Linked DNA regions of Homo sapiens. The protein of the gene in region 3 purifies or fractionates together with the protein of the main gene of each other region. This does not show direct contact. Each region holds a gene or a part of one and is shown on either strand. Other genes may lie near its edges.

What was found.
Region 1: the proteins of DNAJB11 (region 3) and KCTD21 purify together in Homo sapiens (affinity purification with mass spectrometry; 4 studies listed by BioGRID and IntAct, with this or other methods). This does not show direct contact.
Region 2: the proteins of DNAJB11 (region 3) and SCCPDH purify together in Homo sapiens (affinity purification with mass spectrometry; 3 studies listed by BioGRID and IntAct, with this or other methods). This does not show direct contact.
Region 4: the proteins of DNAJB11 (region 3) and BORA purify together in Homo sapiens (affinity purification with mass spectrometry; 3 studies listed by BioGRID and IntAct, with this or other methods). This does not show direct contact.
Region 5: the proteins of DNAJB11 (region 3) and ROCK2 purify together in Homo sapiens (affinity purification with mass spectrometry; 4 studies listed by BioGRID and IntAct, with this or other methods). This does not show direct contact.
Region 6: the proteins of DNAJB11 (region 3) and ZNG1C purify together in Homo sapiens (affinity purification with mass spectrometry; 3 studies listed by BioGRID and IntAct, with this or other methods). This does not show direct contact.
Region 7: the proteins of DNAJB11 (region 3) and DNAJC3 purify together in Homo sapiens (affinity purification with mass spectrometry; 3 studies listed by BioGRID and IntAct, with this or other methods). This does not show direct contact.

What each region holds. Positions count from the first base shown.
Region 1 is NC_000011.10:78,175,127-78,178,626, forward strand, and holds part of KCTD21 (BTB/POZ domain-containing protein KCTD21), read right to left. Parts: intron 2,860-3,500; exon of another isoform or gene 2,005-2,859; coding exon of another isoform or gene 1,926-2,004; intron 1-1,925. UniProt on the Homo sapiens protein: Probable substrate-specific adapter of a BCR (BTB-CUL3-RBX1) E3 ubiquitin-protein ligase complex mediating the ubiquitination and subsequent proteasomal degradation of target proteins. Promotes the ubiquitination of HDAC1.
Region 2 is NC_000001.11:246,734,409-246,737,908, forward strand, and holds part of SCCPDH (saccharopine dehydrogenase-like oxidoreductase), read left to right. Parts: intron 1-1,566; coding exon 1,567-1,647; intron 1,648-3,500.
Region 3 is NC_000003.12:186,580,720-186,583,506, forward strand, and holds part of DNAJB11 (dnaJ homolog subfamily B member 11 isoform 1 precursor), read left to right. Parts: intron 1-651; coding exon 652-794; intron 795-1,275; coding exon 1,276-1,358; intron 1,359-1,996; coding exon 1,997-2,054; intron 2,055-2,787. UniProt on the Homo sapiens protein: As a co-chaperone for HSPA5 it is required for proper folding, trafficking or degradation of proteins.
Region 4 is NC_000013.11:72,748,423-72,751,922, reverse strand, and holds part of BORA (protein aurora borealis), read right to left. Parts: intron 1-3,500. UniProt on the Homo sapiens protein: Required for the activation of AURKA at the onset of mitosis.
Region 5 is NC_000002.12:11,208,637-11,212,136, forward strand, and holds part of ROCK2 (rho-associated protein kinase 2), read right to left. Parts: intron 3,205-3,500; coding exon 3,045-3,204; intron 1-3,044. UniProt on the Homo sapiens protein: Protein kinase which is a key regulator of actin cytoskeleton and cell polarity.
Region 6 is NC_000009.12:68,293,983-68,297,258, reverse strand, and holds part of ZNG1C (zinc-regulated GTPase metalloprotein activator 1C), read right to left. Parts: intron 1-3,276.
Region 7 is NC_000013.11:95,785,139-95,788,638, reverse strand, and holds part of DNAJC3 (dnaJ homolog subfamily C member 3 precursor), read right to left. Parts: intron 2,701-3,500; coding exon 2,568-2,700; intron 1,633-2,567; coding exon 1,484-1,632; intron 1-1,483. UniProt on the Homo sapiens protein: Involved in the unfolded protein response (UPR) during endoplasmic reticulum (ER) stress.

The DNA.
Region 1 (3,500 bases), on a different chromosome or scaffold from region 3:
AGACTGGCCAACATGGTGAAACCCCATCTCTACTAAAAATACAAAAATTAGCTGGGCATGGTGGTGGGTGCCTGTAATCCCAGCTGTTCAGGAGGCTGGGGCAGGAGAATCATTTGAACTCAGGAGGTGGAGGTTGCAGTGAGCCGGGACTGAACAACTGCACTCCAGCCTGGACAACAAGAGTGAAACTCTGTCTCAAAAAAAAAAAAAAAAAAAAGGTTGTATCATCTTTTGACACAGACAATATAATCATCCATTCCTGTTGTGCAGATGAGGAAAACTGTGCCAGGATTCATTCCTCAAGCTCAGAAAGGTGAAGTGCCTTGCCAGGATTCAAACTCAGGTCCTTTTATATGAAAGAAAAATGTGTAAATGCTTACTAGCCAAAGATCGGTTCTAAGTACTCAACAAATGGTTTGAGATTTATGACTCCAGGCTCAGTGCTCCTCCTTCTGTACCAGTGACACTGCTGAATTTAATTATTATTCTCTCTCAAAGATTTGACAATGAATGGCCATGATTAGTGTCATTTCCATCTATCTTCAAGGCCCACAGTGGGTCACTCAGCTGTCCGGACTGCAAATGACAATCCTGTTTTTTTTAAATTTTTTTAAATTTTATTATTATTAAAGTTTTAGGGTACATGTGCACAATGTGCAGGTTAGTTACATATGTATACATGCGCCATGCTGGTGTGCTGCACCCATTAACTCGTCATTTAGCATTAGGTATATCTCCTAATGCTATCCCTCTCCCCTCCCCCTACCCCACAACAGTCCCCAGAGTGTGATGTTCCCCTTCCTGTGTCCATGTGTTCTCATTGTTCAATTCCCACCTATGAGTGAGAACATGCGGTGTTTGGTTTTTTGTCCTTGCAGTAGTCTTTACTGAGAATGATTATTTCCAATTTCATCCATGTCCCTACAAAGGACATGAACTCATCATTTTTTATGGCTGCATAGTATTCCATGGTGTATATGTGCCACATTTTCTTAATCCAGTCTATCATTGTTGGACATTTGGGTTGGTTCCAAGTCTTTGCTACTGTGAATAGTGCCGCAATAAACATACGTGTGCATGTGAATGACAATCCTTTCTAGACTTTCACTGCTCCCATGCTGACTTGCCTTGCCATGAAGATGCTCTTGGCTCCTGGTGGCCTGTCCTTTGCTGTCATAACACCCCAAGCTTCTCTGAAACTGGCTGCAAGGTCAGTGCAAATGCAGGACTCTGTCAGAGCACTCTCCTGAAGGCACCCTATCCACTCCTTAACAAAGCCCCCCTAATCTCTCAGCTGTCAGCATCTATGGCTGGCAAGTCTCCTTCACCACATGTTCTAGAAAACAGGAGATCTCAGCTCCAGCTTCCAACACTATACTTTCCCCAGAGCCAACCTGTGGACCAGATTCAGCAATCCTTCCCTGACATGGCAGGTAGGGATGCCAAGAGGAACTGGCCCCAGTATTACCCCCAGAAGAGCCTGTGCTGGTAGAGGAGATGAGAGAGTAAAGGCACAGTGACAAGACAGGTAGAAGATGTGGGAGATGGTCTGGAATGAACCTTGGCACATCAAAAACTATCTGGCTGGCAGACACAGTGGCTCATGCCTGTAATTCCAGCACTTTGGGAGGCCGAGGTGGGCAGATCGTTTGAGCTCAGGAGTTCAAGGCCAGCCTGGCCAACATGACGAAATCCTGTCTCTACAACAACAACAACAACAACAACAACAACAACAACAAAGCAGGGTGTGGTGGCGAGCACCTGTAGTCCCAACTACTTGGGAGGCTGAGGTGGGAGGATCGCTTGAGTCTGGGAGGTTGAGGCTGCAGTGAGCCGTGATTACGCCACAGAACTCCAGCCTGGCAGACAGAGGGAGATCCGGTCTCAAAAAACAAACAAAAACCCAACCTTTCAAGCATGCTTACCGTCCAGATGGAGAAACAGAGGTCTGAGGAGACACCTCCCCAAAGTCACCCAGCAGGGGTGGCGAGAACTTCTCAACATTTCTGCCTCCTGAAGAGGCTGACTGCACTGAGGCCTCCTTTCTCCAGAGGATGGGGGCCATGCCAGTGTGAGAGATATTCAGCTGCCATGCTCGACTCTGTGGCAGGGGCAGGGGTATGTCCCCTCATGATTCCTCCCCAGTCTAATGGGGCACTTTGATATTGCAGAAAGGCATTCCCCATCTGGAGTGTCTGAGGAGAAATGAGTCCATGTGAAATACGAAATCGTCAGTAGAAGCCTGGAGCAGATGGGCTGCGAGACGGTGGGGAGGTCCCACAGAGGTGTGGGCGAGCTGCCGCTGGGGGCATGGCTGCTGGTGTGGAGATGGCTGTGAGGCAGCAACTGGGGAGGGTGCTGTGACTCAGGGCTGAATCTGGCCAATTCTCTCTCCAGAGGGCCCAGGCAGGAGGTGGACCCAGGAGTGGGTCCCCTTTACTCAGTCCAGAATCTTCTTCCCTGTTGCCCTCTTTGTAGGACTCTAGTCTACTCCAACTGTTTTCTTCTGGATAGAAATGTGCATGTTCTAGTTTCAGTCTCTCTTTCTTCTTGAAAACAAACACTCCCTCCCAACATTGGGTTTCAGGCCTAGGATCTATAAAGTGGCTTACCTTCACGGCAGGAAAAGAAGCGGGTGTCAGAGAGGACTTGGACAGTTCCATGGGTCACAGACCCTTATCTCTTCCATGCATTACTGCTGAAGTGCTCAGAGCATTACAGGCGGGGGAGGTCAGGAGCCACAGGGCATTCCCTGGGACCCCTGGGTAGGTGCCCAAACTCTTATTTCTCTGCTTGCAAAAGCAGCAGAGCACCTGCTTTCCTGCGCCCCCGATGACGTCATGGCTCCCGGTCATTTGTCTGGGGAGAGCAGCACAGTTGCACAGGCAGTCAGGGCAGAGGCTGGCTAGCAGGCAGGTCTCCTGCTCCGAGTCTAGGGTGCTCTCTGTGGTGATCTCCCCTTACCTATCCAGTCACAGAGCTCAGTCCTCTAAGCCCTTCTTTTCTTTTTTTTTTTTTGAGATGGAGTCTCGCTCTGTCGCCAGGCTAGAGTGCAGTGACGCAATCTCAGCTCACTGCAACCTCTGCCTCCCAGATTCAAGCGACACTCCTGCCTCAGCCTCCCGGGTAGCTGCAATTACAGGTGCACGCCACCAGGCCCGGCTAATTTATTTTTGTATTTTTAGTAGAGATGGGATTTCACCATGTTGGCCAGGATGGTCTCGATCTCTTGACTTTGTGATCTGCCCGCCTCGGCCTCCCAAAGTGCTGGGATTACAGGCGTGAGCCACCGTGCCTGGTCTAAGCCCCTATTTTCTAGCCACAGGGCCACAGTGTCCATCATCACAAATCCACGGCCCTGCTACAAAAGGCAAAATGACATGACACGAGGGGAGTTTCATGAGTCGGCGGAGGTTTGCAGTCAGGTAGTAATGAACTAACACCACTGAGCCTCAGTCCCCTATGTGTTCCCAGATGCCTCCTGGCCACCTCCACTTGGA
Region 2 (3,500 bases), on a different chromosome or scaffold from region 3:
CATATAGTTAGTAGGTGATGGATTCCAGGTGTGAACTTGGGTCTTACTGCCTTGAAATCCTTTGTTCCATGATACCATACTGCCTCAGAAGTAGAGTTCTTCATTAATTTCATGTGGTTTGTTAATGGGAGGGTAGGAACTCGAATTTCACACACTTCTCCCAGTCCTGTAATTCCAGTGTTATCCGCCATTCTTAGTAAGAGGTGTGAGGTCTTGGAGTTAGGTAAGAGGGCAGCCCATCTGACCTATTTGTAAAGGTCGATTGTGTCTTTTAAGTGTCCCTTGTTCCTCAAAGGCTGGAAGAAAGAAACGATTTCCTTGTTCCATCTTTTGCTGCCAGGAATGAATAAAGCAGAGGAGTTTGTGCTTCTAATCTACTTCTTCACAAAGGAAAAGATTTGTCATGCTTCTTTGGAAATGGGACTGAATTCTGATGTATTAGCTTTTACATATGAAAATTTGTATTTTAATTCCTTGAGTTTGAATAACAGATAATATGGGAAATCTAATATCATACAGGCTCAGAATATCTGCTCTGTTCAGTATCAAACTTATCCTTTGCAAACTCTCTTCTTCCTGTTGGTTTGTTTTTAATTTTGACCAATAATACCACTGGTTCTTGGCCCCCATGTCCAGCCCAGCTAGTCAGGAAATCCAGTCATTTCCACCTTTTTAGTATTGTATGTCTCATCTTTAGTATATCGTCTGTGCTATAAGTCTTATACCACTATCCTGTTTAAAATTCTTCTGGAAAGCCAAGTAAACTAGAAAGGATAAAGTTGAAACTTGTTAGCATGGCACATGTGGTCCTTCCTGATGTGGCCGTAGCCTGCCTTTTCAGACCCATCTCTTTCTACTTCCTACTCAAGTGAATTTGATTCCTGCTTCAAGCAACAGGAACAGCTCCTTTTTCTTAACCTCTGCATTTACTTTTTCCTGTATCTGGATTTTTCTTTTTCCTGGAAAATTTTTATTTGTTCTTTAGGGTTCAACTCAAGGGAATCACTTGTATGAAACTTTTCCTTTTGTCTTCAGGTAGAGGTAAGCATACATTGCTCTGTAATTCCATCATGCCTTTATTTATTCACACTGTGAGAGATGGTATTGTGCAGGTATCTTCTCAGTTTATCTTTTTGTTTCTGAGACGGAGTCTCACTCTGTCGCCCAGGCTGGAGTGCAGTGGCACGATCTTGGCTCACTGTAATCTCCACCTTCCAGGTTCAAACCATTCTCCTGCCTCAGCCTCCCGAGTAGCTGGGATTACAGGTGTGTGCCACCACGCCCGGCTAATTTTTGTATTTTTAGTCGAGATGGGGTTTCACCATGTTGGCCAGGCTGGTCTTGAACTCCTGACCTCAAGTGATCTACCTGCCTCGGCCTCCCAAAGTTCTGGGATTACAGGTGTGAGCCACTGTGCCTGGCCACTTTCTGAATTTATCTTTAGGCTATTTTATTAACAGTTGATTTCTTGATAACTAGGACTGTTTACTTCCAGGATTAGATGGCATTTTATTCATTTAAACTTGTCAAGCAAGAATAACCTCTTTGTTCTTTTTGTTTCCCTAGTATCGGTTTTATGGAGAACCTGTAATAAAAGCATGTATTGAAAATGGAGCCAGTTGTATCGACATCAGTGGAGAACCTCAGGTATAAAAAATAAAAAGGAAAAACGTAGAATTAACACATAAATTTCGGTTTAATGAAGTGGAAATATTTAGTGTAATTTTGCAGACATATTTAGAAGCCGACAACTCCTTTCTAGCATTCAGATATGGTATTCGTGTGGTATTCCATTGATAGCTCAAAGGAGAGCGCTGATGGTAAGGTCTTAGCTTCAGTTTTCTGAATTTTTTCCCTCCCTACAACATCATTTCTTATAGGTCTGTGCTTATTATAGCTACTTCATGCTTTAAACTGAATCAATTAAAATAGCGGACTGTGCATAATTCTTAGAATCTCAATTCTGTCATGTTTTCATTTTGAATTCCCTTTTAAAAATCAGGTACCTTTAGGCCGGGCACGGTGGCTCACACCTGCACTCCCAGCACTTTGGGAGGCCAAGGCGGGCAGATCATGAGGTCAGGAGATCGAGACCATCCTGGCCAACACGGTGAAACCCCATGTCTACTAAAAATACAAAAAGTGAGCCGGGCATGGTGGCGGGCACCTGTCATCCCAGCTTCTTGGGAGGCTGAGGTGGGAGAATGGGGTGAACCTAGGAGGTGGAGCTTGCAGTGAGCCGAGATCACTCCACTGCACTCCAGCCTGCGCCACAGAGCGAGAGCGAGACTCTGTCTCAAAAAAAAAAAGAAAATTCAGTTACCTTTATAACATTACAGAAAAATAAAGGTAAAATTCACTAGTGTAAAATCAACCTAAACATTTTAAATGTTCACATTTATTGAATGCTTACCATATGCCCAACATTGTGCTAAGTGTTTTATGTAACTTTTTAAAAATATACCTATAGGGTAGTTATCTTCCTCCATTTTTTGTAGATGAGGAAATTAAAGCTTAGGAAGCTTAAGTAACTCACTCAGTAATGCACCTAGTAATGCACCTAGTAATGCACCTAGTAAGTAGAAGAACTAGGTCTTCAATTGAGGTTTGCCTGACCACAGGAAGTTATGTGTTAACAGGCATTAAGCTCTACTACAGCCTTTAAAATGGTAACCTCATGTGTCTCTGTAGTAACTACTGATTATCATCATCAGCATGCCAATATGATATTAATATGCATTTGCAGTTTATCAATTGGTAAAATACTGGAAAATACTGAGACAGTGTAAATTACAAAAATTGATTCAAAAAGGAGGAAACAAATTAAAAAAAAAAAAAAGCCCAGGCGAGGTGGCTCACGCCTGTTACCCCAGCACTTTGGGAGGCTAGGTGGGAGGATGACTTGAGCTGGTGAGTTAACAAATTAGCCAGGAGTTGGTAGCACACACCTGTGGTCCCACCTACTCAGGAGAATGAGACAGGAATATCACTTGAGCCTGGGAGGTCAAGGCTGCAATGAGCTATGATCATGCCACTGCACTCCAGCCTGGGCAACATAGTGAGACCCTGTCTCCAAAAAACAAAAACAAAAAACAATTCCCATGTTATTTTAAATAACCCAGAACATAGAAAATGGTGAAAAGCTTTTAAGTCATCTAGAAACTATCATAAAAGTAGTATCGAACCCCCCCCTTTTTTTTTGATACAGGGTCTCTCTCTCTCACCCAGGCTGGAGTGCAGTGCTACGATCTTGGCTCACTGTAACCTCTGCCACCTGGGTTCAAGCGATTCTCCTGCCTCAACCTCCTGAGTAGCTGGGGGTACAGGTGCACACCACCACACCTGACTAATTTTTGTATTTTTAGTAGTGACAGGGTTTCACCGTGTTGGCCAGCTTGGTCTTGAACTCCTGGCCTCAAGTGATCCACCTGCATCGGCCTCCCAGAATGCTGGGATTACAGGCATGAGCCACCACGCCCAGCCATAATATCAAAACCTAA
Region 3 (2,787 bases):
ATTAGATGTTTGACTATTTAAACAGGCAAAACTAGGAATACATTTCTGCATATATATCAATTTTACATTCTTAGAGGGATCAGAATGTTTGATTGCAGTCAACTACAAAGAGATGGTCATTGTTTCTCTTCCTACATGTTAAAGTATCTGAATGGAGATAGCTCCAGAAAATAGTCCTGGATTGCATTTCCTGAAATAAGGAGACATTTTCAGTAGGTTAACCAGAGGATTGGATAGTAGCCACATACCAGGTTTTGAAGGTAGTGATTGTTCCTCAGGGGTTATGCTTTACACAGCTCGGATTTCCTAAAAGATAATCATTACATGAAGTACTTTAACTCAGTAGCATTTAGTTGTGGCTTAGAAATGCTGATATCATACACTTTATTTTTCGGTTCTCTTGTTTCTTACTCCCGTCTCTACTTCTCCAGCTTTAGAATTTGAGTCATTTAAGTATGTGTTTGCTTCATTCCTGTTTGGGGGCTGATTTGTACTCTTCAAAGAGTTTTGTCAGCTTTAGATCTCTGAGGGATAGATTGCCAGAGAAGGGGAAGTTTCAGTCCAGGCATATGTGCAGAGCCTTGATCAATTGAGGAAAGGAAAGGCTGTTTTACACAAGAGAGAAGCTGATGTTGTTTATGCACTTCCTAGGTAGTTAGAAACAAACCTGTGGCAAGGCAGGCTCCTGGCAAACGGAAGTGCAATTGTCGGCAAGAGATGCGGACCACCCAGCTGGGCCCTGGGCGCTTCCAAATGACCCAGGAGGTGGTCTGCGACGAATGCCCTAATGTCAAGTAAGTGAAAGCACCTTCTTTGTTCTACCAAGAAACACTTGTTAATTTCGTTCATCTAGTCAAACACTAATGGTCCATACTAGATCTTTCTCTGTCCCCTCCCCACTGCCATGTTCTGCAAAAGGATAGAGCAAAACAATGTACATTTTTTTCTGAAGTATTTGTAAATATCTCCTTTTATGTTTCTGAACTAACAAGCAGTGCCCTTTATTTCTGATACATTTTCAACAAGTATTAATGCTTCATTTTCTTCCTTCTTGTACTATTAGAGCAGCCTTATATGTTTATAAATGTATAGTAGCTTCACCCTGGATTTTAGCATATAGAAGATGTAAATGATTATCAGATAGTTTTGTCAAGTAGAGGCACACTACAGTCTTCCAAGAAAAAGCTCTGATAAAATAGGTATAACTTTATCTATATCTGATGTTTTGTTTATATTTTCATTATTTTTCTCCTCTTTTAATTCTCTTTACCTCAGACTAGTGAATGAAGAACGAACGCTGGAAGTAGAAATAGAGCCTGGGGTGAGAGACGGCATGGAGTACCCCTTTATTGGAGAAGGTGAAATATTGATATTTGATTTTTTGATTGTGATAACTTTTTGCTCTCTGCTTGTTTGTGAATACCTTTCACCCCTGCCTTACTCCATCTTAATGTTCACATAGTAAACGCATATATAATTTCCAACACTCTTCGGCCAATTTTAGGATATACAAAGCCTTTTGTTTACCTGAAGCAGTAGCATTACCGTTTATCCTTTGAATGTCATGGCCAAAAGTTATTATGAGGTAGCCTAAGTTTCATCAAAATTTAGGGTGTTCAGACCTTAATGAGTTTTAATTCAGCAATGAAAGAAGATATGTAACTCTAGTTGGCATTAATAAGATGCTCTCAGGACCTCACCTTTAGACTTAAGTTTAAAACTCTAAAAATAAAAAAAGCTTTAAGACTTAGGTTCAGGAGACCAGTGTATCATTCTTTGTTTAGGAAATGGGTCAAGTTATGTACTGCTGTATCTGAGGCAAAGGTGATGATTTCTAATAATCTGAAACTTGATACAACCAGGCAGAGACACTGCCGTCACAGATTTGACAGGTCAATGCCCAAAGTAGTGGATTAAAAAAATGTATCAGTTGCCAAATAGATTTGTGGTATTCAACTTGTATGATTTACAATATGCTGTAATCTGCTCTGACTAGGTGAGCCTCACGTGGATGGGGAGCCTGGAGATTTACGGTTCCGAATCAAAGTTGTCAAGTAAGTAATCTAATTTTAGAGGTCTTCTCAGATGAGTCAAATTATAGAGACGTAGGTGGCCACCAGAGCAGTTAGACTTTTTTCTCTGTTTCTTACCCTTATTACCCTAAACGATGATTTGTAACTCCTCTACAAGGCTGAAAACTTGGGGTTGGGCCCTAGGATTGAGCCCCAGTTATTTATTTACTTAGGACTTAAAAATGCAAAAGATGTTGAAAGGAAATAATTGATAAGTAAGGAGTTATAAAAGAGAAACAAACAAGATAGGGAGTCAAAGCTGAGATTTTAGCTGAAGAAGTATGGCACCATACAAGAATAGGAGACTTTTCCATAGACAGAACCTTCTACATAATATGCAGCTTCTGTAAAGAGAGCTTTTCTTTTGTGAGCTTCTCTTCAGCATGAAGTGCTGCTTAGACAGTTTTGCCTGGGACTCCAGCTTTCTTGATTACTGTTGCTCTCTTGTTACCACTTTGGAAACCAGTAATATCTCTGCCTTTGTAAGGAGTCATCAAAACAGGGTTCCCACCAGAATATGGAGAAATGGCCCCCCACTGTCTGGGACTTTGCCTTCCTGCACTCTTTAATCTCAGTGTTGTTTTCCCCAGCTTCTTTACCTACCTTGTCTTTATCATCACTTCTTAGAGAAACTGGAACATGTGTTGTTTCCTGAATAAACCTGACACCTTCCTTGTCTTTGCCAGAATTCCTTCTCACTCTATTTCCCCTTCCC
Region 4 (3,500 bases), on a different chromosome or scaffold from region 3:
CAAAGGACCTTGCCTTCCATTACTACTTATGTTTTTGCTTTTATTATTATTTTAAACTGACACACAATTACACATATTTATGATGTACATGATATTTTGATATGTTTACAATATGTAATGATCAAATTGGGGTAATTAGCATATCCATTAACTCAAACATTTATCATTGCGTTGGGAACTTTCAAAATCTGCTCTTCAAGCTATTTGAAAATATACGATAAATTGTTAATTACACTCACCGTATAGAGCTATAGAACACTAGAATTACTCCTATCGAGCTGTACTTTTGTATCCATTAACCAACCTCTCCCTATCCCTGCTCCCCCTACCCTTCCCATCCTCTACTACCTACCACTATTCTATACTCTTCTATGAAATCAACCTTTTTAGCTTCCACATGAGGGAGTACATGTGGTATTTATCTTTCTGTGCCTGGCTTATTTCACTTAATGTCCTCCAGTTCATCCATGTTGCTGCAAATGTAAGGACTTCATTATTTTTTATGGCTGAATAGTATTCCATTGTGTATATATACCACATTTTCTTTATCCATTCATCTATTAGTGGACACTTAGGGTGATTCCATATTCTGGCTATTATGAATAGTGCAGCAATAAACACTGGAGTACAGGTATCTCTTTGACATACTGATTTCCTTTCCTTTGGATATATACCTACTAGTGGGATTGCTGGATCACATGGTAGTTCTATTTTTAGTTTTTTGAGGAACTTCCATAATAGCTGTACTAATTCATATTCCCACCAACAGTGTTCAGGCACTGTTTACTTATATTAATCACAATGATCATGCTAATATCCTGTAATCCTATTATTATCCCCATTTAAAGAAGAGGAAACAAGCTGAAAGAAACTGTCACTTTCTGGGATTTATAAAGCTAACAGAGCTGGGCTATAAACTGAAATCTGCCATTACGGTTTCCCAAGCCCATGTTCTTTAATGCCATGCTCGCGCCTCAACTAAATACATTTGCACCCACACCCATCCTGGCACCCTGCCCTCCTTTAAACATGGAGGAGTTACTGCGGCTACTCCTATCAGGGTTCTAGATTCTACCCCCTCTTGCATGCCTCAGTTCCCTCATTTATAAAACAGATCACCATTTGACAGATGACGATATCTATTATATCTGTAAGGTATTACAGGGATTAGCTTCTGACTGTAAAATGCTTGGCATGGTCTCTGGTACTTGAAAAGGACATGTGACTGATACCTATTAATAATTATATTAATAATTATGCTGCCCAACTCCTAGTTTTTAAAAATCTTCTCTCTCTTCATTTAAATGCTGTATGCTGTTTCTTCTGTGTTCCATTACTGGAACACTAAGCATGTGGGAGTTACTTATACCCTGTTGTTCAAGGTCATCGCCAAGGTCTGATTGCAAAAATTCAAAAAATTGCAACCTTAGGCATAAATGGGTTAAGTAAAAACAAAGTAAAAAAGCAAACTACAAAAAGATCTGACTTTGATGCTCTTCTCTAGGTATCATTTTCTTTCCCTTCACAACTAAACTCCAGAGTTATCTACACACGTTATTTCATTACTTCTTCTTTAACCTTCCTTCCATTCACCTTGAGGCTGTTCAGTTATTAATTACTTTTCTTATTAGTCCATTAGCCCCTTTTCAAGCCCAATGTTGCTTGCTCCTATTTTGGCAATGCTAACCATTCTTTCCTGCTTAAAATGCTTCATGACACTGTGCTTTCTAAGTGTCCCTTTCTCCTCTTTGGCTGGTTCTTTTCAGTCTCCTTCAGGGGCTGTACTTCCTTTACCTGATCCCTCTCAATTCTTCCTCAGAGTTCCAAATCCTGGCTCCCCGTTACTCTCAGTAAATACCATCCCTCTGGTTGAACTTAACCTACGTATTCGTTCTGTTTTTGTTACACAAATATTTAATGAGCGGCTATTACGTGACGGGTTCTTTTTAATAAGCACTGGGGATAAAAACATGCATGACTGCTGCATTAGTGGTCTGATTGGAAAGAATGCAAAATGTGCATGGAATCATGAAAGCATATAATGAGGTCTGGCCTGGCTAATGTGATCTGGGAAGGCTTGAGGATGTAATCAATAAGTTGTCAATGAAAAAAATAAATAGGAGTTAACTAAGTAAAATGGGATAGAAATGCTACATAGCATGTGCAAAAAGGCCCTGTAACAAGAGAAAACGTGGCTTTTTAAAACTTTGGAAAGCTAGTGGGACCTAAACAGAGAATGAAGGAAACAAGCTGGAGAGTAGAAAGACCAGCCTTGCCAGCCACATTGCAGACTTTTAAAATTAGTACCGAACGCATTTCAAAAGTGTAGAAAATAAAAAACTCAATAGAAAGGTTATTATATAAACTGGAGGAAATTGCCCAAAAATTCAAAAAAGGAGATTTAAAAAAAAAAAGATTTTTAGAAATTGGAGAATCAAAAGTTGCTCCAGAGAGAACACTAGAAGCAGCAGAGGAGAAATCTAAGATATTATTCAAGAAAAGATCCAAGAAGTGAGGGGAGTAAGTTTACAGACTGTAAGGGCATTCTGAGTGAAGAGTATAATGGATGGAAAGAAACCCGCATTAAAGGACATCACTGAAATTTCAGAACCCTGTAGACAAAGAAAAATGCCTATCCATGTCCAGGGAGTTGGGGATAAAAAGAGATCATAAACAAAAGATTAAGCACTGAAATAGCTTCAGATCTCTCACTGAAATGGAAGCAATGCCTTCAAACTCTGAAGGACATTTCTGAACTCTCAAATGTGAGAGACGGACACATGATCACACATGCAATGTCTTTAGAAATGTACTCTTCCTCAGAAAGCTAGCAGAAAGCTAACCATGTGGCAGAAATGTAATGTATGAAACATTTTTAGTAGACATTATGATGTTATGGCCCAGAGAGTAAAACTGAGACTGCTTGGGGGGTATCACATAACATATTTTTACCCAATAGAAGGAAGAGGTTGTAATAGTAAGAGAAGTTAAAAAATGAATGGAATAGCCCTGCAAGTGTAATTAAGCATAGATAGTTTGACAAGTTAGTAGTGACTACAATTATGGGAGAATATGCTACCCACGGCTTCCAAAGGTTAGTTGGATTAGATGATGATTAAGGTGTATTTCAACAAAAGTATTTTGTAATTCCTCTATATAAAAAAGAGAGAGAGAGAGAGAGAGAGAGAGAGAGAAAGTGAAAAAAGGCAGAGAGTAAAAGCAGCAAACAATGCCTTTAAGGCATATACTTTTAAGCCTATATGTGCTTTTTTCTATTTATGAAACCAACTTTAGAGAAGCTAAAATATGTAAAAGTGATTCTAGTATAATCTTTTTTGAGCAATGAAGCTGTAAGTCAGGATAGGCAACAGAAGCATAAAAATATGAGCAAAATACTATATTTAATTTTGGGTCATTTAGAATCCTTCCCTGAGTTTTAACTTCAGCATGCCAAAACTGACAACACTAAAGCCTTATAGAGTTGGTGTGAGAATTAAATG
Region 5 (3,500 bases), on a different chromosome or scaffold from region 3:
GCCCAGGCCGGAGTGCAGTGACGCAATCTCAGCTCTTTGTAACCTCCTGGATTCAAGCAATTCTCGTGCCTCGGCCTCCAGACATAACTCGGATTACAGGCGTGTGCCACCACACCCAGCTAAGTTTTGTATTTTTAGTAGAGATGGGGTTTTGCCATGTTGGCCAGGCTGGTCTCAAACTCCTGGCCTCATGCAATCCACCCGCCTCGGCCACCCAAAGTGCTGGAATTACAGGCATGAGCCACTGCACCTGGCCTTAATTTTCAATTTAATATTTTCACTTTCATACTTGAAAATTAGGAGTTTCATTCACAGGGTGTAAAAATGTATCACACTCTGCAATATTACATCTATTCTAATGGAAGCAAGATAGTTCTACCTTTATTTATATTCTACAAGATGCTTACATCTTTAAACAAAGGTTTCTTATATTCTACTGCTTACTGCTATTCTATGTCTCTCAGTGTTACTATTTTTACCTTAAAACAATCCAGGTAGATTCTATGATCTCCATAGGACTTTCCATGTTAACACATTATTATGCAGGTGTTGAAAAATATGTTTTAGGGAGGTGGTAAAGGACAAGACTCTGGAACCAAACTTTCTGAGCTTAAACCCTGGGTCTAACACTGTTTGACTGGGCAAGTAATTCACCTCTCTGGACCTGTTTCCTTATCTCCAGAATAGGGATAACAGCACCTAGGGAGGTTGTGAAGATTTAATACATGTGTACCACTTAAATGCTGCCTGGCATATGGCAAGCACTTGGTAAGTGCTTATTATTTAAGCAGAATTTTTAATGACCAAGGAAACGCTCACAATGTCTTGTTTTTTAAAAAGCAAAACGGTATAGAAAGTGGAGAAAATTTACAAAATAGTATCCTAACTCATAGGATTATGAGTAATCTTTGCTTTTTTCTTTATACTTTCCTGTGTTTTCTAAATTATTTACAATAAATTTTTAATCTATTTTACTTATCAGAAGGCAAAGTTCCAAGTGATTTCAGTGTTAAATGTAAGTCATCACAGTTAAAGGATTATCTTGATATACTGGTTAGTACTTCAGTTCACATTCAATTAAGGCTCCTCTGCTTTTTCATAATTAATGCTCAACATCTAATTATCATCTATTATAAAGTTGTATTAGGTAAAAATTAAACCTATGAATATTTAGTGTTTAATGAATGGTCTTCAAAAGTGCAGAAAAATGAAACATTCCCCATGTAGTACTAATAATAGCATTTCTAAACACTTTACATGTTTTATTGCACTTGATTTTCACAACAACGTAACAATACTGTAATTGTCCCTTCACAGGAAACAAGACACAGAAAGTTTAAATAACTAGACAAGGTCACATAGCTAGTAATTATTTGGTGAGCCATGTTCTTAATCCAAGGAGCCAATGACATGCAACAGAAGGACCAAAGGCTTTAGCCTCAGATTTGAAACCATCTATAATATGTAACAGTTTTGTGTACTCATGTGTAAAATATGGAAGTCATCATGTATCTTACATTAGCGTTTTAATAGTTTGAAAAAAATGGTAGTTAATACTGAATTGGTTCATTTTTATCAATTCAGAGAATAATCACTAAACAAATGTCCTCATTTAACAAAAAAAACAATCACCATAATGTAGGCATTGAGAATAGAAAGAGGCATTACTGAGATAATGAAAATAGTCCTTTTTTTTTTTTTGAGATGGGGTCTTGCTCTGCTACTGAGGCTCAAGTGCAGTGATGCAATCATGGCTCACTGCAGCCTTGAACTCCTGGGCTCAAGCAATGTTCCTGCATCATTGCAGGAATACTGAGAGTCCTACTCCCAAGTAGCTCTGACTATAGGCGCACGCGACTACATCCAGCTAATTTTTCTATTTTTTGTAGAGATAGGGTCTTGCTATGTTGCCCATGCCGGTCTCAAACTCCTGGGCTCAAGAGATCCTCCCACCCTGGCCTCCCAAAGTGCTAGGATTACAGATGTGAGCCACCATGCCTAGCCTGATATATTCTTTATCTTGTTTTGAACAGTAGTTATGTGAGCATATCACGAAATGTCAAAAATGTTTACATTTTATTATTGCATGTAAATTATACCTCAATGAAAATAATTGAACTCTGTCTTCTAGGCCACAGACAAGGAAATATGGCCCAGTAACTTTCTCCCTTACAATTAGATTTTTGTAAATAAAGTACTCATTTCATTTCTTATCATCCTGATTTAGTGCCTTAAACTACACTGATTTTTACTAAGAAAATCTACCATTTTAATTACATGCAATAATTAAAAGGCTATTTTTTCTAAGTTAGTTACTCATGTAATGCTTCAATATGAAAATAAATTTCTGTTCAAGAGTTTTAAGCCTTTCACAAGAATAGCTTAAAGTACTGATTTTCTCTGGAATTTCAGAGTCATTATAAACAGTCAGTTTGGAAAAGAAAAAATTATCCTAAGACAATTCCAGGATAAAGTCTAGTTTATGGGAAGGTTAACTTTGTTATCTATTAGTATTATATGGCTTCGACCAAATCTGGCTAGTATCTTCATCATGTTAGAGATCAAAATACTCAGTGAACTTATATTCTAGTTAGACCAGCTATTACTTTTAAATTCTTACCTTGCATAAACTGGCAAGAATTTTATAATACAAAACTCTTGTATTACAAGAATTACCTGTATCAATAGTAACAGGTATACAGCGTGTGAAGTTCAGATATTCCTTCTTACTACTGATACACGTATACCGAGTGGTACAGATATTACCAGGTATATAATATTGAGAAATATTAATTTATCTCTGATCTAAAAATCTGATCATGTAATTTTGTGTTTGGGTCTTACTATCTTAGAAATGATTACTGTAATGATACAAAGGAAAAATAATAGAATATCTATGTAAAGCTTCCCTAATAGTTTTTTTCCCTCCAATTCCCAATATTTGACAATGAAATATAAAAAAAAATGTTTCAAAACCAAAAAGCTAACACAGAATCAATTCTTAGGAAGACGCTGCTGGAAAACCCTCTTTAAAAAATGCATACCTTTCATGGCTTCTGATTTGGCTTCTTCGATGGACTCATAGATCTTATTTTTATCTGCTAGTCGTGCCTTTGTGGCCTTATGTTCAGCTTCTTCTTGTTCTAGGCTCTGCTGTATAACTTTTAGTTGGTATGTCATATCTATTTCCATGTTGCTTTTTTCCTATTAAATATTTAAAATGCAGCTATCAACAAAAAAGAGACTAGCTCACAATTTCAAAAGCTTTCTAATTTTTTTTTTTTTTTGAGACAGAGTCTTGCTCTGTTACCCAGGCTGAAGTGCAGTGGTTTGATTATGGCTCATTGCAGCCTCAACCTCCCCAGGCTCAAGCAATCCTCCCACCTTGGCCTCCAAAGTAGCTGGGACTATAGAAGTTTGTCACCACTCCTGGCTAATTTATTTTATTTTATTTTTAATGTAGAGACAAGGTCTCATTAAACACTGCCTACACTGATCTT
Region 6 (3,276 bases), on a different chromosome or scaffold from region 3:
GTAACACATACAATGTACTCACTACACAGGGCCAGGTACTTTTGCCTGAGTCACCTCATTGTATCTTTTGACTTACTCTTCACAACAATCCTGGGGAGTGAAGATAACTATTTCATTTTATAAATTGGGGAAAATAAGGGTCAAAAAAATAAGCTACCCAGAGCCAGGAATAAAACTCAAAACCAAAGTAAATTTGTTCTCTTAAAAAAAAAATACAAAAGAAAGGCTTGGCTTATCTTTAACTGAATAAGCATGTGCCAAGAGGAGAAGAGTTCTTAGCGATGAGAATGATAGGATAATGCCCTCTTTGGCTTTAGTAAGGGTGACATCATCATGTATTGAATATTAACTTTAGGATTTATTTTTCTTCTTTATCTTGATAAATCTCTCACTGTCTACCCTAAAGAAACAGAAGCTTAACATTTCCTCTAACAGGTCACCTAATTAAAACCCAAACCTCCCTTTGCCAATATAACCCCAAATTTCAAACTCAGAGATGAAAATACACAAGGGCTAAGCATAACATTATAAAAACATACACCCCACCTTGGAAAATAGAGGCTCAAAAGCCAAGCTCAAAATGAATTTAAAAAGGTAGAAAATAATATACTAAAGCACATCTTTGCATAACTTCCTAGAACTGCGTATCTGGCCTAGCAATTTTACTCACCATTACATAATCATACAGGCTTACAGCAGAAAATACAAAAAGACCAAAAACTATTTTATAATCCAAACTCAAGAGAATCGCTAAAGTATTAAAGACCAATTTAGGCAGAAACATATGAGACATTTCTTTCTTTCCATAGGTTACTGGGGAACAGGTGGTGTTGGTTAACTTCTTTAGTGGTGATTTGTGAGATTTTGGTACACCCATCACCTGAGCAGTATACACTGCACCCAATTTTTGTCTTTTATTCCTCATCCCCTTCCCACCCTTTCTCCCTGAGTCCCCAAAGTTTATTGTGTCATTCTTATGCCTTTGCATCCTCATAGCTTAGCTCCCACTTATGAGTGAGAACATAGCGATGTTTGGTTTTCCATTCCTGAGTTCTTTCACTTAGAATAATAGTCTCCAATCTTATCCAGGTCACTGTGAATGCCATTAATTCACTCCTTTTTATGGCTGAGGAGTATTCCATTGTATGTATATATATCACAGTTACTTTATCCACGCATTGATTGATGGGCATTTGGGTTGGTTCCACGTTTTTGCAATTGCGAATTGTGCTGCTATAAACATGCGTGTGCACGTATCTTTTTTGTATAATGACTTCTTTTCCTCTGGGTGGATATCTAGTAGTGGGATTGCTGGACCAAATGGTAGTTCTACTTTTAGTTCTTTAAGGAATCTCCACACTGTTTTCCATAGTGGTTGTACTAGTTTACATTCCCACCAGCAGTGTAGAAGTGTTCCGTGTTCACCACATCCATGCCAACATCTACTATTTTTTTGATTTTTTTATTATGGCCATTCTTGCAGAAGTAAGGTGGTATCGCACTGTGGTTTTGATTTGCATTTCCCTGATCATTAGTGATGTTGAGCATTTTTCCATATGTTTATTGGCCATTTGTATATCTTCTTTTAAGAATTGTCTATTCATGTCCTTAGCCCACTTTTTGATGGGACTGCTTTTCTTGCTGATTTGTTGGAGTTCATTGTAGATTCTGGATATTTGTTCTTTTTCAGATGTATATATTATGAAAGATTTTCTCCTTCTCTGTGGGTTGTCTGTTTACTCTGCTGACTTTTCCTTTTGCTCTGCAAAAGTTCTTTAGTTTAATTAAGTCCCAGCTATTTATCTTTGTTTTTATTGCATTTGCTTTTGGGTTCATGAAATCCTTGCCTAAGCCAATGTCTAGAATGATTTTTCCAATGGTATCTTTTAGAATTTTTATAGTTTCAGGTCTTAGATTTAAGTCTTTAATTTATCTTGGGTTGATTTTTGTATACAGTGAGAGAGGAGGATCCAGTTTCATTCTCCTACATGTGGCTAGCCAATTATCCCAGCACCATTTGTTGAAAAGGGTATCCTTTTTCCACTTTACGTTTTTGTTTGCTTTGTTGAAGATCAGTTGGCTGTAAGTATTTGGGTTTATTTCTGGGTTCTCTATTCTGTTCCATTGGTCCATGTGCCTATTTTTATAACCGTACCATGCTGTTTTGGTGACTATGGCCTTATAGTATAAGTTTGAAATCAGGTAATGTGATGCCTTCAGATTTGTTCTTTTTGCTTAGTCTTGCTTTGGCTACGCACATGTGTATGTTAAACCATCCCTGCATCCCTGGTATGAAACCCCTTGATCATGGTGGATTATCTTTTTGATATGTTGTTGGAATCAGTTAGCTAGAATTTTCTTAAGGATTTTAGCATCTATGTTCAAGGATATTGGTCTGTAGTTTTCTTCTTTGGTTATGTCCTTTCCTGGTTTTGGTATTAGGGTGATACTGGCTTCATAGAATGATTTAGGGAGGATTCCTTCTTTCTCTCTCTTGTGGAATAGTGTCTTTAAGACTGGTACCAATTCTTCTTTGAATATCTGGTGGAATTCTGTTGTGAATCCGTCTAGTCCTGGACATTTTTTTGTTGGTAATTTTTTAATTACCATTTCAATCTCCCTGCTTGTTACTGGTCTGTTCAGGGTAATTCTTCCTGATTTAAGCTAGGAGGGTTGTATCTTTCCAGGAATTTATCCATCTATTTTAGGTTTTCTAGTTTATGCATGTAAAGGTGTTCATGGTAGCCTTGAATATCTTTTGTATTTCTGTGGTGTCAGTTGTAATATCTCCCGTTTCATTTCTTATTGAGCTTATTTGGATTTTCTCTCTTTTCTTGGCTAATCTTGCTAACGGTCTATCAATTTTATTTATCTTTTCAAAGAACCAGCTTTTTGTTTCATTTATCTTTTGGATTTTTTTGTTGTTTTGTTTCAATTTCATTTAATTCCGCTCTGATCTTCTTTCTTCTGCTGGGTTTGTTCTTGTTTCTCTAGTTCTTTGAGATGTGACCTTAGATTGTCTGTGCTCTTTCCAACTTTTTGATGTAGGCATTTAGGGCTATGAACTTTCCTCTTAGCACCACCTTTGCTGTATCCCAGAGGTTGATAGGTTGTGTCACTATTGTCATTCAGTTTGAGGAATTTTTACATTTCCATCTTGATTTCATCTTTGACCCAAAGATCATCCAGGAGCAGGTTATTCCATGTATCTGCATGGTTTTGAAGGTTCCTTTTGGAGTTGATTTCCAGTTTTATTCCACTGTGGTCTGAGAAAGT
Region 7 (3,500 bases), on a different chromosome or scaffold from region 3:
AACCATTTTTCAATGAGAAAAAACTATAGCCAAGATTTATTTCAAGTGAAAATTAAGTTTCAGATTGGCATACATCATGTGATTCTACTAAACATATTCCTAAATATGACACGTCTTGATATATGCATAGTAAAAAACTTTAAAGTCTTTAAAAGAAAAGATAGTTCATCCTGAACAGAAGAACAGGAGGTAAGAAAAAGGACCTGCAGCTCTTTCCTCAGTGCATGCCTCTGTGCAGGGACACCCATCCCCTTGGTTGGCTCCCTGGTACCTTAAAACGTAGCACAAAGTCCCTCTCACATAAGAAGATCCTGACTCCCAGTCTGATACACTATCACACCTGTGCACTGCACAAACTAAGAGGATTGAACTGCTTAAGGCAGGTTGTAGCCACTCAGTATTTGCTAAGTAACAGGACAGTATGTATCCAACACTACTTGATAAGGGAAGTACATTTCTGTCTCCTTTACTGGATTATAAATTACTTGAAAACGAAGGATCATTTACTTTCAATTCCACTGCAAGTACATTTCTGTCTCCTTTACTGGATTATAAATTACTTGAAAACAAAGGATCATTTACTTTCAATTCCACTGCATAAGTAAGTACTCAAAAAAGATTTGACAAACATAAAACTTTCCTCTCTTTTGTTTGTTTAGCTCAGATCACAGCTGCTGTTCCCACTGACATGGAAGGCCACAAAAAAGCAGTATAAGCTTAACATGAAATTCTCTGGCAGCAGCAAAGCATTGTTCAGTATTACCTCAATGCTTAGCCTGTCTCCCTCTTAACGAAATTTCCAGGCCATATTACTGTATGGCAAAAGAACACATGTGGCCAGGTGCAGAGGCTCACACCTGTAATCTCAGAACTTTGGGAAGATCACTTTAGCCCAGGAGTTAAAGACCAGCCTGGGCAACACAGTGAGATCCCATTTCTACAAAAAATAAAAATTAAAAAAAAAAAAAACACATATAAGCCTGTGAATCTAATGATCCTATGATTCAGGGCAAGATTCCTGGTGAACACATATGGGGCAAAGCAGGCCCTAGGCCAGACAGCTGTTCTTCTCCCACTCCATGTAATCCAGCCTGGCAAGCTGGTTTCCTCATCAAGCTCCTGTAAGCTTGGTGGAGAAAATTCATCATTGACCTTTGAGGTTAGAGGGAACCTGAGAGATCCTCTTATGCTCAGTGTTGAAAAAACTGAGACCAAAAAGTTCTGATAACTTCTTTGAGTAGAAAAAAGATTCAAATTCAGGCCCTCTGATTCCACATTTGATAGTCTTTCCACTGTACCCTGCAACAGGAGGGTGCCCAACATAAGAGGGCTGAATGAGGGCAGGCATAAAACTGGACCTCTGGAACTGGGCTCAGGACCCGTCACTGCCTATACAGCCCCACGTGGAGAACCCACCACATGTTCCACCCTCGCTTCTAACACCACCTCTAGGATGAGTCAAAGGAATAAAAGCTAATAATACCTGGATCAGAGAGGACTTCTTTAGCAGCTGCTATATCAATGAACTTTTTCTCAGCTTTTTTCTTTTCTTCTTCATTCTGGAAGTTATCTGGGTGCCACTGCAGTGCTAATTTTCGGTATGCTTTAATAATTTCTTGCTTTTTGGCATTTCTGAGGGGTGGTAAAATAAATAATCATTAGTGGAAAAGTGTCTAACATACTATCATAAAAATCAGAAGAGCTGATTAAGATCCTACTGGCAATTAACAAAACTGGTTTTATAAAATAGTTCCAATGGTATCACAGGCCAAAGATCTGCATACACAGTTCTGGATGATCATTAAAGCTGACATCAGGCTTCCTTGGATACTCGCTCACTAAGATTACTGAGAATAAAGCACTCCTGATCTTTAGAACTTTCCCTTTTTTAAAAAAGGTACATCAATGAATTTTTTAACTTTCTGAATTTCCAAGTTACCATAATTCAATTCTTGGTATTAAAAAATATTTGACTCTGAATGCCACTTTCAATTATGCTTCTGCATTAGCTTACTTAATAGTAAGCACAAAGATTCCAAATTTTGAAAAATTGATGGTTTACTCAGCGAACCACTGGGAGGTATATCATTTACTTAATTTCAGAATTCACCCACAGGCACTGGGAGGTGTATCATTTACTTAGTATGTACTTTTATATAAGGTAGATCTTAATTTCAGACTTAATTCTGAAAGCACTACTTTATTTTTAGGCCTAGAGAAGGCTTTTTCTTTACTCATTCCGTCTCCTCCTCCATCCCCACCAAAAGGAATCTCACTCCTACCCCTTTACCCTTCTTAAAAAATCTAGGCTTAGGACCCATTCATGCTACAGTGTCATCTTTGTTGCCAACTACTAATTCTGTTGTTGCATTATTGGTCTCTATCAAAGAAACTTGCCTATAAAATACTCAAAGTAGCTTTCTAATGTTAAAGACTGTTAAGGTTTAATCCATATGACTGAAATTACATAAGTAAAGAAAATGAATCAGAGAGGAAAAAGAGCAATGATTAGCTTTGAAACAGAGTTGATTAAAAATAGCAAAGTAAATTTTAAATTAATAATTCACCTTTTTACTCCCAAGATTTTATAATAATCTCGTTTCTGCGACTGTTTCAATAATCTTTGTGCTTTCTCTAGACCTTCTCGAATCTGCTGATCATTTTCATTGTGTTCCTGAGCAGTTTCATAATCCTGAATAGCTGTCAAAATATGTTTAAGATAATATTGTTAAGGCAAATTATAATTTATTGCCTTTTCTTATCCTGTAAAATTGATGCTAAAGTCGTCATCCCCCAACCCCTTCACTCTTTGGCCATTATTGCCAAAAACCTTAAGTGATACCCCGTTAGTAACTTTGATCAAGAATATTTAAGAGGCCGGGCACAGGGGCTCATGCCTGTGATCCCATCACTTTGGGAGGTCGAGGTGGGCGGATCATGAGGGTCAGGAGTTCAAAACCAGCCTGGCCAACACAATGAAACCCCGTCTCTACTAAAAAAAAAAACACAAAAATTAGCCGGGCATGGTGGTGCACGCCTGTAGTCCCAGCTACTCGGGAGGCTGAGGCAGGAAAACCGCTTGAACTTGGGAGGCGGAGGTTTGCAGTGGCCGACATCGCACCACTGCACTCCAGCCTGGGTGACAGAGTGAGATTCCGTCTCAAAAAAAAAAAAAAAAAAAAAAAAGGTTTAAAAGGCATAATAATGAAAACTGAGTTTAGGTAGTTTATTATTCTCATTCAACAAAATGTACTGCTGTTTACTTGCCCACCCTCCCGCATTATCTCCCCATACCCTCTGGGTAAATATGTTAATATCAGCACTTTATCCAGAGCAATCTTACCACCATTAAGACTAAGTGGTTGTTACACAGGAAAGAAAGACAGTGATAAAGAAAATCGGCCTGGTCAGCTATGGATTGACAACAGTCCAGAAGAATTAGACATTTAGAAAGGGATCAGGAGGTGGGTTTGGCCAATGGGAAGCTAGAAAAAAAAAAT